Linked DNA regions of Homo sapiens: region 2 is linked to region 1. Evidence: fine-mapped expression QTL. Tissue or cell type: minor salivary gland. Region 1 holds a variant in brackets; the other region holds the start of a gene. All regions are shown on one strand. Distances are between the middles of the regions.

What was found. PIP is the estimated chance that this variant, and not a neighbour inherited with it, causes the effect.
Region 2: it holds the start of MMP15, and the variant in region 1 is fine-mapped to the expression of MMP15 in minor salivary gland (GTEx, PIP 0.98).

The regions. Positions count from the first base shown.
Region 1 is chr16:58,107,071-58,115,327 of GRCh38, forward strand. CFAP20 (cilia and flagella associated protein 20) reads right to left here. Exons shown (of 6, transcript NM_013242.3): 4 at 8,199-8,257; 5 at 7,740-7,850; 6 at 6,522-6,960. The coding sequence ends at 6,955. Among named protein-coding and RNA genes, the nearest start is that of CFAP20, 18 kb to the right of the region's middle. RefSeq lists an enhancer at 2,368-2,417. The variant G/A (reference allele first, on the strand shown) is at 4,611.
Region 2 is chr16:58,022,107-58,030,106 of GRCh38, forward strand. MMP15 (matrix metallopeptidase 15) reads left to right here and starts at 3,648. Exons shown (of 10, transcript NM_002428.4): 1 at 3,648-4,406. The coding sequence starts at 4,245. RefSeq lists enhancers at 2,257-2,844, 2,845-3,430, 3,663-4,212, 4,763-5,312 and a silencer at 3,657-3,796.

The sequences.
Region 1 (8,257 bases):
TGGGTGACAGAGCAAGACTCTGTCTCAATAATAATAATAATAATAATAATAATTAAATAAAACCATCAGATCTCATGAGACTTATTCACTATCACAAGAACAGCATGGCAAAGACCCGCCACCAGGTCCCTCTCACAACACAGGGGAGTTATGGAAGCTACAATTTGAGACTTGGGTGGAGACACAGCCAAACCATATCATCATACATCCTAAAACATGCACTTCCACCGAGCTTTAGGTGTAGGTGGCATGAACCTATTTTGCATGCTCACTAATAATTTTTTTTCTCCTTCCTTAAGGGCTGAGATTTGCTTTCATTGTAGCACACTACCAGCAGTCAGGTGGAGGGAATGAGAACTACAGCTCTCCCTGCCTTTTACTGCTGGGGGCTTAGGTCAGTTTCTAATACCAAGAAAAGAGGTCTCAGGCTTGTAAAGAGGCTTTAGGTTCAAGTAAACATGAGGACAGTCTTGGAGGATGGGAAGGAGCTTTGGAGAGTGACTTGGAACCCAAAGGCTAGTGTATTTATGGCCCGATTTTACTGTATTTATTGATTTTACTGTATTCCCTCCAAAATACCAGGATTTACAATTTAAGACTTTATGGAAACAGGGGCTGGGGGATACCCAAGTGATGAGAGAACCCATGGAGGCTTATATTGATATTTATTGCTGTCATTCAATAGAAGAGTAGAGGAGCTTGGTGACCTTTTATACCCCTTTAACAAGGGGTTCTGTTCAATCCCTTTCCATATCCACCCCTGGCACACTGTTTTGCTTTGCTTCGCTTCAGACACCATGGATACCAAGAGGCATGATTTTTCCAAGGCTCATGCTCTATCCAGATGTTCAATGTCTTGTGGATTTGCAATTTGGAGTGCCTCTATCACAGCCCAGAGGCACTCGTGATTTGCATTACAGGACCTCACACTTTCAGGTTATGGAAAATGTATGGAGATGTCAATGACATATTAGAATTCTGTATAAAAGGAGGAACTTAAGGGTTCTTTTGTTTGTTTGTTTTTGGTAGGAGGAGGTTGCAATCTGCAGATGTGCCTGGGTGGTGGGTGGGGGCGGGGAGGGCGGTGTTTTACGTTTCTTTTCTCTCCCAGCAGTGTCTGACCTCTCTACGCTCAGATGTATCATATCCACTCACTCAAATGTGGAGCCACTCTCAGATGACAGAATCACCAAAAAACACCAGGAGAAGGTATTAAGATGCAGATTTCTGGGTTGGCTTTAGACAGAGAGAGAGAATAAAAATGTTATCTCTTGGGGTGGGGACAATTGTCATTTTAATAAGCTGGGTCCCAGAAATATGCATTTTAAATAGGCCAGGGCCAAGGACTCTGAATTTGCTGGATTTTTATTTATTTTTTTAGAGTGTTGCTCTGTTACCCAGGCTGGAGTGCAGTGGTGCAATCATAGCTCACTGCAGCCTCCACCTCCCCGACTCAAGTGATCCTCCCACCTCAGACTCCCCAGTAGCTGAGACTACAGATGCATGCTACCATGCCTGGCTAAGTTTTTTATTTTCTGTAGAGATGGGGTCTCGGTGTGTTGCCTGGGCTGGTCTTAAATTCCTGGTCCCAGGTGATCATCCCGCCTTGGCTTCCCAAAGTGCTGGGATTACAGGCATGAACCACTGTGCCTGGCCCAGCAACATAATTTAAGAATATGAATTAAAATTCAGTAGATTCATCTTCCTGTGGGAAAGGTACATTGTGCACCCCCCGCCCTCCAACCAATTAGGTCTATCCTTATTTATTTAGAGACAGTCTTGCTCTGTTGCCCAGGCTGGAGTGCAGTGGCACAATCTTGGCTTACTGCAACCTACGCCTCCCGGGTTCAAGCGATTTTCCTGACTCAGCCTCCTGAGTAGCTGGGATTACAGGTGCCCACCATGCCCAGCTAATTTTTACGTTTTTAGTAGAGACAGGGTTTCACCATGTTGGCCAGGCTGGTTTCAAACTTCTGACTTCAGTTGTTCTTTTCGCCTCGGCCTCCCAAAGTGCTGGGATTGCAGGCATGAGCCACTGTGCCCGGCCTATTCAAGTCTATTCTAGATGCCTTATGAGCAGACACTTGTGCTCAGCATCAGGAGCCTGACCTTCTAGCAGGAAGCCCTAGGCTTTATTCCCAGCTCTGGCCCATGTGAGCCATGCAGCCCCTGTGAGCTATTTAACTTCTGTGCTTGTCCATAGATGGGGGCAGCGCCACATATAACCTTCCAGACAGGATCCCAAGGGCGCCACATGCAACGGCTATGAAAGCATGCTACCTTCTGAAAAGCACTGCCATGTACTGCGTGGGTCTCCATTGTCGTTAGAAGTCATCTGCAGTGCCAGGCCTTCCCAGGCTCCTGAGAGAACACACATGACAGCGATCAGGAAACTGAAAAAGCTGTTCATGCTAGGCGGCTGGGTGCAGGAAGAAAGGGCAACTACATTCTGTTAATACATTCGGGTGCTGTCATTTCAGAAATGGGAAGTGGGACTTATATGTTACTTTATATTCTTTCTTTTTTTTTTTTGAGATGGAGTTTCACTCTTGTTGCCCAGGCTGGAGTACAGTGGTGCGATCTCAGCTCACTGCAACCTCCGCCTCCCAAGTTCCAGCAATTCTCCTGCCTCTGCCTTCTGAGTAGCTGGGATTAGCAGTGCACGCCACCACGCCCGGCTAATTTTTTTGTATTTTAGTAGAGATGGGCTTTCATCCTGTTGGCCAGGCTGGTCTCAAACTCCTGATCTCAAGTGATCCACCTGCCTCGAACTCCCAAAGTGCTGGGATTACAGGCGTGCCCAGCCCTTCATATTCTTTGAACCATGAGCTCATGAATGTACCATGAGCATGTATTACTTTTATGATTCCCTGGTTAAACACAAATGAGATTTTTACTGTCAGCCTCAGACCCTTGTGTTCAACTAATATGTGACCACATAGTGACTGGGCAGGCCAGCCCTCACTGCTGGGCAGAGCTGACTCCAGTGCTTGATGCAAGGGGATGCCAACACAAAAGAGGACAGGGATGGCATATGGGTCTCCTCAGGAGCATGGGGTCCTCGTTCCACCCCGTTGTTTCTAGAGGGGCTAGCCCATCCCTCTCTGGGCTTCAGTGTCCTGATCAGTAAAATGAGGGGATGAGGATGCAGACAAGAGCTGCAAGATCTTTTTCAGTGAATTTCCTGACACTTAGGGCTTCTGGGTGAAGCCACTGAGGGGCTAGGGACATCGGTTTGGGGTTGTTCTCTGGGATTCTTGCAACCTTCAGAAATGCCCCAGGAGCTGACTGGTGTGGCGCCGGCCAGTCTTCTAGCCTGGCTATAGAGGAAGCAATCAACGGGCCAGGGGCAATTAAGGGCCAGAGTAAATCTACTCTCCCCCAGAATCAGCCCTGTTGGGAACGGCTGTGTGCTATTCCAAGTTCATGCCAATTAACTAACACTCTCTCATTTAGAGGGCAATTCCTTCTAAAACACACTGTGACTTCCAAGGAGCTGGATAATGCAATTCTGCCTGCTCCAATTACCGTGATCCGAGATCACCCAGGCCCAAACTCCATGAGGGCGCCTCAGCCCAGCAGCCTGTCATTCCCTCTTCCCTCAGCCTCACTGGAGGTTGTCGTCTTCCTGGGGAGCTGGAAAGCTGCAGGCAAGGGGCTGTGCAGTCATGACACCACTATTCACCCTGGCCTGGGGCCAGCTCAGATAATACCTCTCATCACCCCCGGGGCCCCTCGCTTCCTTCTTCCTCTGGGATGGGTATGTGAGGCATCTGGGAAGTCACCACCTACCACCCCAAAGGGTGGTGAGGTAATCCCCAGACACGGTCTAACAAGTGCCTGGGGTGAAAGAGGCTCTGTGTGGAGGAGAGTGCCTCCCTGTGTTGCTCTGAACCCCCAGGAGCACTTCACTGATATCCTGGCACCCAGAAGAGATGAGAAGTTAACGCGGTTTTCTTGTCATCACAAAAGCATCTTTCATGCCATAATCGAGTCTGGATTGGAGGGAAGATTTCACTAGACAGTGGCCAGAGGCTAGACACTCTGTTGGTTATTGCCCACCCCTCCACCCACTCAGCCATTTGAGGATTCCTATTGTAAGCAAGAAAGTGAAGGAGACAGGCACACTGCCTAAGAGGGGGATGCTGACATGCTAAGCACAGGGAAGCAGGACGACGTTCAGTTTTGACCAGAGTTAGCCCTGCAAGAGCAGGCTCTGTCACCTGGGCTGAGGGGGTGTGTTCTGTGATGCTGATGACTAGGGACTCAAAGGAGAGGGGCAGCATCCTCCAGAAGGTGGCTCCAGGCTGGTCACCAGCAGAAGGAAAAAGGGGAAAGTTGTCTTAACTGCGCCCACCTGAGTTTCAGGCACTTGACAACTGTCTCATCAGGTAGCTGTGGAGCACCCTCCCCTCCACTTCTCCACCTCCTGTAGCCCCTGCCTCCTCAGAGACTTGGCCATGCTTCCCCACAGCATACTCTGGAGGATACGGATGTGGGGAAAGCGTGCTTCCTGCCATTTAACTTCTCAGAAGGCAGCAATGGTAATGACAAATCCCAGAACTTAATGTTTTTACCTCTAACCAAAGTCAAAATGGCAGGTGCCCACA[G/A]TTCCAGTCTGTGCAATGACAGCAAACCCCGGGGAGTGACTGGGGAGGGCACAGAATCTGGAATAGCCTTTTGCTCTTGCATTAACTTTGAAATTTTTATTACAAAAATGTCTTTCCAAAAAAAATTTTTTTTTTGAGATAGAGTCTTGCTGTTACCCAGGCTGGAGTACAGTGGCACTATCTCAGCTCACTGCAACCTCTGCCTCCCAGGTTCAAGCAATTCTCCTGCCTCAGCCTCCCAAGCAGCTGGGATTACAGAAGCGCGCCACCACACCCAGCTAATTTTTTATATTTGGTAGAGATGGGGTTTCACCATGTTGGCCAGGCTGGTCTCAAACTCCTGACCTCAAGTGATCTGCCTGCCTTGGCCTCCCAAAGTGTTGGGATTACAGGCGTGAGCCACCACGCCTGGCCAAAAACATTGTTTTTTTTAATAGTAGAAGAGAGTATACAAGTGATTTAAAAAAACACAACAAAATCATTCTGCCCAGGTAATCACTGTATTAGTTGTGTGTCCTTCAAGATCATATAGGACACCACCTAATAGGGGGATGCTGATAAGTGCTTTTCTCTGCCCTCAAATTGCTTTCCCCTCAGAAATGTTGCATGTGGTAGAGTTGTATCATATACAGTGCTTAACTTTTGCAAATTCATCTGTGCCTAACCAAAAAAAAAAGAAAAGAGAAAAAGAAAAAAGCAGGCAATAGTGCCAGTGTCATTCCACTCAACAGGCATCTGCCCAGAATAAGCACAGTGGGAAAAGTGGTGTAAGGTTCCAGTTCCCTCATGCGATTCCAGCGTTTAAAGAAACATTTTTCTGGCCGGGCGCAGTGGCTCACGCCTGTAATCCCAGCACTTTGGGAGGCCGAGGCGGGCGGATCATGAGGTCAGGAGATCAAGACCATCCTGGTTAACACCGTGAAACTCCGTCTCTACTAAAAATAGAAAAAAATTAGCTGGGCGTGGTGGCGGGCGCCTGTAATCCCAGCTACTCAGGAGGCTGAGGCAGGAGAATGGTGTGAACCCAGAAGGAGGAGCTTGCAGTGAGCTGCGATGTTGCCACTGCACTCCAGCCTGGGCGACAGAGTGAGACTCCGTTTCAAAAAAAGAAACATTTTTCTTTAAGTCCCTACATTCAAGGCCAGTAGTACTTCAGCGGGAACTCAAATAGAGAAATGGTGATCTGCTCCAATGCTTTAGGTGCAATTTAGACTATGTCATTCTGTCTTAAGCTCAACCTAGGACCCAACCCCTAGCAAGATGATTCCACTGGTCACATACTATTTTTTTTTTCCCATTTAGTCTTCAAAGTTGTTCTGAACCAGTTTATACAGTTGACCCTTGAACAACTCAGAGGTTAGAGGCACCGACCCCCTTATGCAAAAATCTATGTATAACTTTTGACTCTCCCAAAGCTTAACTACTATAGCCTTCTGTTGACTAGAACCCTTACTGATAATATAAACAGCCATTCAACACATATTTTGTATGAATTACATACTGTATTTTGTATTCTCACAATAGGGTAGGCTACAGAAAACGTTATTAAGAAAATCATAAAGAAGAGAAAATATATTTACTATTCATTAAGTGGATCATCATAAAGGTCTTCATCATTGTTGTCTTCACATTGATGAGGAGGGGAAGAGGAGGAGGTGGAGGGAGAGGAGGAGGGACTGGTTTGTTGTCTCAGGGGTGGCAGAGGTGGAAGAAAATCCTCATATAAATGGACCCGCACAGTTCAAACCTGTGTTGTTCAAGGGTCAGCTGCATAATATGTCTTGTTCTTTAGATACTTAATACAAGACATTTCACAGCATGAAATGTATAAGATGTTCAATGGAAATAGTTCTCTTTTCATATCACAAAGGAAACAAACATCACCATGAAAAAAGACAAACTAGGAACAAATTTACAAACCAGGAATATATCACTTTATTCATTTCCAGATTATGAGTATGACACAGCATATACATATATTTAGATAATATATAAAACATAGAATAAACCGCAGGAAGAAATATTGGTCTGGAATTCCTTATGGGCCATCTTTAATTCTGTAAGTTCATGGTAAAGGTATCTCCCCCCACACTGGGGCAGGCGGCGGAATAAGCTCCAGCGTTCATGCGCCACTCACAGGACTGCTTACCCCCACTGCACTTACAATGCAGTCACAGAGTTACGGCATGTTCACCGGTGTCCATGACAAGCAACACCAAGTATAAATAACAGAACTACAGCAGAGCAAACTAAGATAAATATGTTTTTGCATCGTCCTCCACATAGTTTCCTTTTAAAAAGAAGAGTCACATCCAGGGGTCTATCCCTCGAGTCACAATTCCAGTTATTGCTGAAGGGAAAAAACAGAGAAGTGGCATCAGTTTAAGTTACTAGAAAATAGATGGTCAGTGTCACAGGCCCCCTGCCTCTGGTGACACTTGAGTGGACAGTGACTGTGGAGAATGGACACACATCTGCAGCACACAGGCAGGGAAGCACCCACCCTTGTGTTAGCAGGGACCTATCAGCTGATAATACTTTTGGGCTGATTAAGAGTTAAGATGGGGCTGGGCACGGTGGCTCACGCCTGTAATCCCAGCAGTTTGGGAGGCCGAGGCAGGCGGATCACTTGAGGTCAGGAGTTTGAGACCAGCCTGGCCAGCATGGTGAAACCCCGTCTCTATAAAAATTAAAAATTAGTTGGGCATGGTGGCAGGCGCCTGTAATCCCAGCTACTCAGGAGCCTGAGGCACAAGAATCCCTTGAACCTGGAAGGCAGAGGTTGCAGTGAGCTGAGATCGTGCCACTGCACTCTAGCCTGGGCAACAGGGCAAGACTCCATCTCAAAAAAAAAAAAAAGTTAAGATATTTTCTGAAGTTCTGTGAGCCAGTAGTAGGAAGTGCCTCATCCCCTCTCACCGTGGAGAGGGGAAACAGCAGTAACAGAGTATTTCACAGGAGCATTCCTGATTCAGTGCTGGAAGGAGACCTAAGATCTTGCGATATAAAGGCACCCCAAAGTGTCAACACAGAGAGGCTCTGCAGCTGAATTCTTAGACCAGAGCACCTTCCAGGAACACAGCTCCCCCCACTCACTGGTGGACCTTCCTCTGGGGAAGACTGGCTTACCTTTGCCTTGTTCTGAACTGGGAGATACAGTTTGAACTCTGCCGGCAGCTCATCTTCTGAGTAGAGTCTGTCTGAGAAGTAAACCCGTCGGATGCGACAATTTGCATGGATCTGTCAAGGCAATGCTTCTTTTGAGAGGCGAAATGTGACTGTTCTCCCCCTTTTCCTGAATCTTCTAGAGGCCCTCTTCCAGGACTGGAAACGCGTCATCTCCGGCATCTCCTTGGCTTGTCTTAGGGATGGATTCTGGCAAGAGGGAGGTCTTACTTGCTGTATTCACCTCTATACCTGACCCGACTTCTGAATATTTCCTGGACCTTTGTGAGGCCAAAGCTCCCTGGACAGTGTGGCAACTGAAGCCAGAAACCCACACTGTTCTGCTATGTGGGCCACAAGCCAATATTAGACGCAGTGTGCCCTATCCCCAACCCAGGGCTCTATCTGGGAAAGGAGCAGTACCTGCACTCTGAGGGTCTCGATGTAATTGGTGCCGTATGCTCGCCGTGTGAAGTCTAGCA
Region 2 (8,000 bases), 85 kb before region 1:
ACCTCGTGGTCAGGCCTGGCATCTGGGTGGGGACATAGGGCTTCAGGGAAAGGTGTGGGGAGAGGGGCCTGTTGCCCAGGCTCCCATGGTGGCCCCTGCAACCCCACCTTTCCTGAAAGGGGCAGCCTCCCAGCCACTGCACTGAAAGACACAGGCACATTCTGTGCCTTGTTCCTGCTCCCCACCGCATTGATCTGCTGACTCCGACTCATCATTAGTCTGGTTCTTCTGGAGAGGAGGAGGATGCCGGGCATACTTTCTGGCTTGCAAGCAACATGGCAACTCCGGCTGTGCAGCCTGCACTTAACTGACACCTGCCCTGTGCCAGGCCCTGAACTGGGCACTTGGTGAACCAGACTAGGTCTACCCTCTGGGTGCTCACAGCAGGGCTGAGCAGGCAGGGAGCACAGAGAAGAATCCCCATCCTCAACATGGTACTTCCCCAGACTTGGGTACTGGCTCCTATTGGGAGGGGGGCAGGTGTGAGGTAGGGCCTCCATCAACAAGCCCAGGAAGAGGGACTGGGCCATTCCCCTGGGGGAGGATGTGGCTGGGGAGTCTGTCTGTGCTGAGGATGGAATTTGAGTGCAGCAACTTTGAGAAATGGGCCAAGATCAATAACTGGCTCCTCAATGGAGAATGGAAGGTGGCAATGGAGGAAGGAAGCAGGAGTCTCGCTGAGGGGGAGGGGTGGGCAGGCTGGGCCTGAGGAGGAGGCTGGCGGCAGGAGCTTGGCGGGCACCCAGACACTGAGTGTGCCTCTGGAGCAGAGTAAGCCCGTTGAGCGAGCGCTCCCGCTGACAGTGCAGAAGCAGCCGGGGCTCTTCCATAACAGGAGATTCTCCATAAGAGGAGAAACATGGGAGACAATTCTGGAGACAGAGGGAAGACCAGAGAAGGCTGCGGTCCCCCCCAGGGAGGCTGGCCCAAAGAAATGCTCTTGATGAGGATTTTATCGCACCAGGGAGAGTACAAAATCAACACATCTGGCCTCGGTGTCCTCAGATGTTCCCCGCAGGGCAGGGAAATCATCTCACGCCTGTTTGGCTGATTTCCACCTGGCACTCTCCAGCGCCTCTCCAGACCACCCCAGCTTTGTTTCCAAGGGAGAGGGAAATTACCTTGGCTTGTTTGTTTATTCCTTGTCTTGGCACGAAGAGTCCCAAGGCCTGCTTCACCTTTGATGGTGGGTCGGGTGGGTGCATCGCCCGAGGGGCCCCTGGAGGGGAGAGCTGGGGGAGGGGGTGTCCTGGGCCTAGTTCCATCCCACAGCTACTTTCCTTCACTGAACAGGAGACCTCCCCTACGACCTCAGAACTCTCCTTTTGCAAATGAGGAAACAAACCCAAAGAGGGGAATAACTTGCTCGGATTGCCCAGTAAATTACAGCTGAGGCAAAAACCCAGGGACCTGGCTTCTGATCCAGAGCTTTTTACAATCCCTCACACCACATCGGGACCTCTAAATGAAACTGCTCTGAAACACCATGTCTGGGCTTTCATTCAAAAGACCAAGAAAAAAAAGGTGTGTGGTGGTGGGCGGGGGTGTCAGGGCATAGATGAAACGGTATTGGCAAAATATGGATAAGGTTTAAAGCTACTTGATGGAAGGGCTGCAGTTCACACATCTCAGTCCCACTGACTAGTCCTTTCGGGCTTTGGGTGCTGTCCAGACCCAGTAGAAACCCAGCTATCTTGGGTTGGATGTAGATGCAAATCCACCTTGGACTCCCAAAGTACCTATAGGAGCCAGAACCAATAATTGGGAGCTTCAAGATCTGGTCACAGGGGATGTCATTTCCTTAAGGCAGGATTGGACCCCAAGAGAGGAACCTCCAACAGAGAGAAAATCACCAGACTTGACCGACCCAGGCCTCAAAGAACGTTGCTCCACTCATTCCTGGGCTCCTCTCACTAACAGCTAGCCCCTTAAACCCCAACTTTTTTTTTCTTTTTTTCTGAGACAGTGTCTCGCTCTGACAGCCGGGTTGAAGGGCAGCGGCATGATCATAGCTCACTGCATCCTCAACCTCCTGGGTTCAAGTGATCCTCCCAACTCAGCCTCCCAAGTAGCTGGGCCTACAGACGTACACCACCACACCTGGCTAATTTTTGTATTCTTTGTACAGATGGGGTCTTGTCATGTTGCCCAGGCTGGTCTTGAACTCCTGGGCTAAAGCAATCCTCCCACTTCGGTCTCCCAAAGTGCTGGGATTACAGGCTTGAGCCACTTTACCTAGCCCCAAACTTTTTAAAATTGGCTAATCGGGACTAAATATCATGAAAGAGTGCGACGTGGTCGGTTAAACAAGGACAACCCCGTTGTCCGTGTCTGAAGACCACTGCACATTTCCCAAAAGCAAATTTCGAAGTGGAGAATTTAGAAACCAACTTCCCAGATGAAGGATCCCACAGAGAAGTGAGTCCGTGGAAATGATAGAATCGCCCGGTTCCTTTCTCTAAACTCCGACTTCCTTTCCCCAAGGACATCCCAGGAGGGTTCAAACGCGCCCTCTCTAAGGCACTCTGCCAGGTCTCCTGATTTCCAGTTTCCGGGAGGTGAGGCCGGCTAGGGTGCCCCGAGGGCCTGCTCTAGAGAAAACCGCCCTCAGGTGAGGACGGCTTCCATTTCCGGGTCTGAAGATAAGGAACAGCTTATCTTCGGTCTCCGCCCTCCTGCCTGCAACCCTCACCCACTGACCACGCCGGCCAGTCCGCCGCGCCAGGGCTGCCCTTGGCCTGGTCCCCGGGTCTCGGTGGACCTTCGACCCGGGCCTCCCAGCTCTGGCCTCCTGCATCCACCCCGCCCCGACCTCAAGCTGCTTCCGGAATAGAATGAAATCCAGCTCGTTAAGCTTCGCGGGGAGGTGTGTCCACCCGCCCCGCGCCGACTCCGGCCGCACTGTCGCACTTCACTCGCACCAGCCAGTGGCCAAAGTGCTTGGGCACCTATTGCGCCAGGCCAGGAGCCGGAAGTCTTACCTCGCCCTCACCCCAACTCTTTGCCCCACGTTCCCGATAAGAACATGGAGGCTCGGAGAGATTAATTTGCCCACGTGCAAGCGGCAGCTAAGGGGCGGACGCGGAACTTGAACCGTGTCCCTCCTAAACCTGCCCCTTGTCCGCCGCAACGCGCCCTCGACGCGCACAAAACCCTCACTTTGCTACTGAGGAAAGTTATTCAATGGCCAGAGACACCCTGCGGCTTTTGAAAAGAGGTTTCAGGCTGACAAATATCCATATATACATATATATTTATATTTAAGCCTAAAACGACTCTTTGATCCCTCCCCTAAGACCTCCTTCCCGTCCGCCTAGGCCTCGGTATCCCCCACCAGGTATGAGAAGGAGGAGTCTTCATTCTTCCCAGGCGGGGAGACCACGCCTTCCCTGCCTCCTCCCTCCGCGGGGGGTCGCGTTGGAGGTCACCCCCGCCCCCTAGGCGCTGGGTTGGGAGTGACGCGGGGTGGGCTGGAGAGGTTTCCTGCCGTCTGGGAAGCGTAAACGGACCGCCCACCTGTCGGGCCTCGGCCGCCCGCACCTGCTTGTGAGAAGCCTGCGGCTGGGGCACCGCCCCCGGTCCCCGCCCGGGTCCGCGCATTGGGAGCACACTGGCCCTTTAAGAGCGCGGCGGCCGCGGCGCGCGGGGAGGAGGGCTGGGAGCGCCCGGAGCCGCGCTGAACTCGCCGGGGACGTCGGGCGCCCGCTCCTTGGCTGGCTCGCTTGCTCTCTCGCTCGCTCTCTCGGGTCGGCTCCCTGCGCCTCCTCCCGGGACTGCTTGGGGACCCGGGCCCGGTCGGGCGCGGCGGCGAGCAGAATCCCCGTGCAGGAGGCGCGCGCTCCGGGCAGCGCCCGGCCCCGGGCATGGACAGAGGGAGCTGGGCGCGCAGGGAGCGCCGCGGGACCGGGCGGCCGGAGCGCTGAGCCAGACAAAGGCTCCGGAGTTGCGCTTGCTCTCGGGAGCCGGGCCCCAGGCGCTGGGCGCCGAGGCTGCGGAACCTCGCCGGGGGCAGCTCCGGTCGGCCCCCTTTCCCGCCGGCTGGTTCCGAGCTCCCGGACCTGCCCTGCCCGCTTCTCCTCGGGCTTGGGAATTTGCCGAGGCGACCTAGGCGGCTCCGGCGGGGACCGGGAGCCCGAGGTCCGCGGCGCGCCTGCCGGGCCAGGAGCCAGGGAGCGTCGCAAGTTTCCAAGGCGCGTGCGAGGATCCGGCGTGCAGTGTTCCGAGCTGGGCTGGGCGCCGAGAGCATGGGCAGCGACCCGAGCGCGCCCGGACGGCCGGGCTGGACGGGCAGCCTCCTCGGCGACCGGGAGGAGGCGGCGCGGCCGCGACTGCTGCCGCTGCTCCTGGTGCTTCTGGGCTGCCTGGGCCTTGGCGTAGCGGCCGAAGACGCGGAGGTCCATGCCGAGGTAAGACCCCCGCCCTGCCCTTTGGCTGCGGGCTGGGGGCTTGGAGGGAGAGGCGCCACGTCCGCAGGCTGGGACTTGGAGGTGGAGGGAGCGGAGACGCGCCCCCTGTTCTGGGCCGTGGCGGGGAAGCAAGCGGACTTGGCAGTCTGCCCCTCCCCAGCTCGCCCTCTGCAGCGCACCTCTTCGCAAACCCTTGAGGGCGCAGGGCCTCGCTCTCCTCCCCGCTACTCCTACAGCCCTGTTCTGGGCACTGAGCCCCCACCCCGACCCCCTTACATTCAGCCTGTGTCCCGGGAGCCGCTTCCGCCGCCCCCAGCCCTTGCCTCCCCTCCTTCCTTCCCTCCAGGGCAGCCGATTCCTCGAGAGCCCGGCTGGCGCGCAGTGGCGCTCTTTGCGAGTGGGGAGGGGGCTGCTCTCGGGGACAGCCACAGGCGGAGCAAGAGCTGGGCGGCTGGGCAACTGCGCTCCTGCCCAGGTGGCCTCCCGTCTGGGTGATACCGAGCCGCGCACGGCGGGCCAGGATGGAGGCGGGGGGATGGGTGCAAACGGCTGAGGCAGCGGACTCGGGTTGCGGGGGCGCTTTGGCGACTTTCTGCGCTTTTGCGAGGAAGCCTAGGCACGCCCGGGCGGGGTCCTAAGGACGGACCCTGCCTCCCACAGCGCTTCCTCCCAACAGCGCCCCTACGTCGAAGCCCTGGATTCGAGAGGGTGGACCCCGCGCCTCTCTTCGCTAGGAGCCCGCTTGGCGTCCCTCCCGGGGCCCCGCTCTGGATGGGTCCCGCGGGTGACCAGGCGCGACATCCCGGCGTAGAGCCGAGTCCAGCCAGCGCCCCAGCTCCATGGTGTCTCCCGAGCGAGGACACCGAAGGCGCCAGCTTTCTTGCCCCAGAGCAAGAGCAGGGTCCACTCTTCCCCGACTTCTAAGACCTGCGCCCTGCCCCAGATAGGCGGGGAGAGGACTTGGGCGGGGAGTAGGGAGAAAGAACCACCCCGGAGCCGCTTCTGAACGGTGCTCAGGCCTTGGTGCCCTTGGGCTGCCCGGGCTGCGGGCCTGAGCGCCGTTTCTATTTGCAGCTCAGCTGGTGCTCCCTCCCTGGCCCACGGCGGCTTTCCCACCTCTCCGGGCTGCCTGGGAGATTTTTCCGATGGAAGCTTGCCCTTCCCCGCCCTACTTTAATAAAAGCATAGAGGAAGGGCAGGGAATTCCTCCTGGGCTCGAGTTACACCTCCCAGCCATTTCCCCACCTGCTCTGCCCTCCCTCCCTGGCCTGGCCAGGGAGAGCTGAAGGAGGAGCCAGGCCCTGGTGGGAGGCAGGATAGGAGCCCCGCCCCGACCCAGTCTGGCCACCCTCCCCCACCCCATTCACACAGGCAGGAGGAGCTTTAGGGGGCTCCTGTTGGTGAGGATTACCCCTCAGCCTGTGACCCAAGTACTGGGCGGAGAGTGCCATTTGGGCCCACCTGCCACTCTGGGCTGGAGTGCCAAAGAATTTCAAGTCACAGTCCCACCATTGAGTTTCTAATCTACTTAGGGATGGCGTCAATACATAGGAAGCAGTGATGGAATTCAATGGCCGTGCATTGCTAATGGCATCCTAGCTGGCCAGGAGCTCAGGGGTGCAGGGACCTGTAGTTGGAGGGGCTTCACTCTCTCTCTCTTCTGCTTTTCCAGTTCCATCTCACCCCTACCCCAACTCCCCAGCTCAGGGAGTGCCCACAGCTCGATGCCGCCAGGGAAGAAGCCATGGTTGCGTTATCACAAACCGTGCTCCTGATCTGGAGGTTGTGACTGTCCTGGAGCCCTACTCCTGGGGAAACACTTGGGTTGGACCTGGGCAGTGACTGGAAGAGACCCCGGAAGGTTTAAGGAGCCTTGAATGTTGGCAGCCATGCAGATAGAGGGCTAGAGACAGGTGGAGTGTCCCAGCTCCTACAGTTGGCTTTGGGTACAGGCTGCTTCTAGGGTCCCATCAGGTCTGGCCACATGTGGGCCCAAAGAGTCAAATGGCCTCAGCAGCCAGCCCATCTGCCGGGGGCTGTGGCCTCAGACTCCTGGGCCTGGCCTACACCCTGTGTTGAGCCTCCCTTCCTTGGAGAAGGCTGGCTCTCTCATCCTCACCCCAGCATCCACACAGCCTCAGGCCTCCAGTAGGGTCACAGCTGGGACCTTCTCGGAGCAGCTTGGCAGCTGAGCCAAGGCCAGCCTCTCTCCACTTCCTCTCTCCCCTCCCAGGGTGGAAGCCACAGGACTTTCACGAGGCTGAGACATCAAGGAGCCTGGCATGTGCTAGGAACTGACAAACACCTGCAACCTGCCAGGCCCTAGCCCACCACTGAGCTGCCACGTCCTATCCCACATTCTCCCTTGGATGTCCAATCCCAGTCTGTAGCCATTCCGGGCCAGATCCCCACCTGGCTGAGGTGCTCACTGTTGTTCCTGCCCTGCAGGGCTGAGAGTCTCCAGGCTCACCGGGGGAGCTCTTATCTCACCTGCCTCCCCCTACCCCCTCCTCCCAGGCACAATTCAGGTCCTCAGCCTGCTCTGTGGAGGTGACTCAGGCTGCCAGAGTTCACAGGGGTGGTGCCACCACCACCAAAACCGATCCACCCGCCTTTCCTCAACAGGCCCACGAGTATCTTCCTAGCCCCTACCCAGCCACTGAGTAGATGAGGCAGCGGGGGTGGGGGCGTTGGGAGGGGGTCAGCGTGAATTACCATTTTGACCTTCAGGTGAGCCACAGTCTTGGGCTTCCTTAGCTTCAGTCTCTACTAGCACTTCCATGCTGGCTCCGGGGGGGCCCCACTGGTCCCCTCTTTCTTTTAAACAGAGCAAAACTACAGATGCCATCTGTGCCCACCAGCTAAGAAAAGGGAGTTAATAGCGGGGCCTTGTCATTGGGAATCTGCAGAAGCTGAATCTTCTCCCCCTCCCCTCTTGTCTCTGCTTTTTACTCTGTTTTCTTGCTAGTAGTAAATCACTCCTCTCCATGCTCTGTCAAGACCCAGAGAGAACTGGTCTGATTGGCACAGCCAGGGACCTAGATCTCATTGGGCCATGCCCTTCACACCCAGCCCTTGCCATGTTTCCGAGTTGGGGCTGCCCTTGGGTCCAGCCAGTCATCTGTCTCCTTGCAGAGAACAGCCCAGTGTAAGCTCCTTGTCTGAGCAGTGTATTGGCCTGACCTTCCCATTGTGACCTCTGAACATAAATACCTCCTTTGCCCCACCCCAAGGGATGTTGATACTTAAAAGATATCCATGAATGTGGAGAGGAGCAACATGGAAATACACGCTATCCCCACCCCCAAAAGAAGACTTTCCCCAAAAGCCCAGTGCCCACTGCTATCTCTTATGCCCATTCAGGATGGCTACACTGCAGGCGTGGAAAAGCCCCTCCCTGCCGAGCGGTTTGTTCTGCTGTCCCTCTGTGGCCCTTTTGTTGTTTGGTCCAGATGATCCCTTCCATCATCACCTCTGCCCTGCTGGGAGTTTGACCTCTGCCTCAGGCTAGCTGTGGTGGTCACTATGAGAACCACTACTTTCCAGATCAAATCAGAATGGGTATCCTCCATATCATCCCAAGGCTTAGGTGGC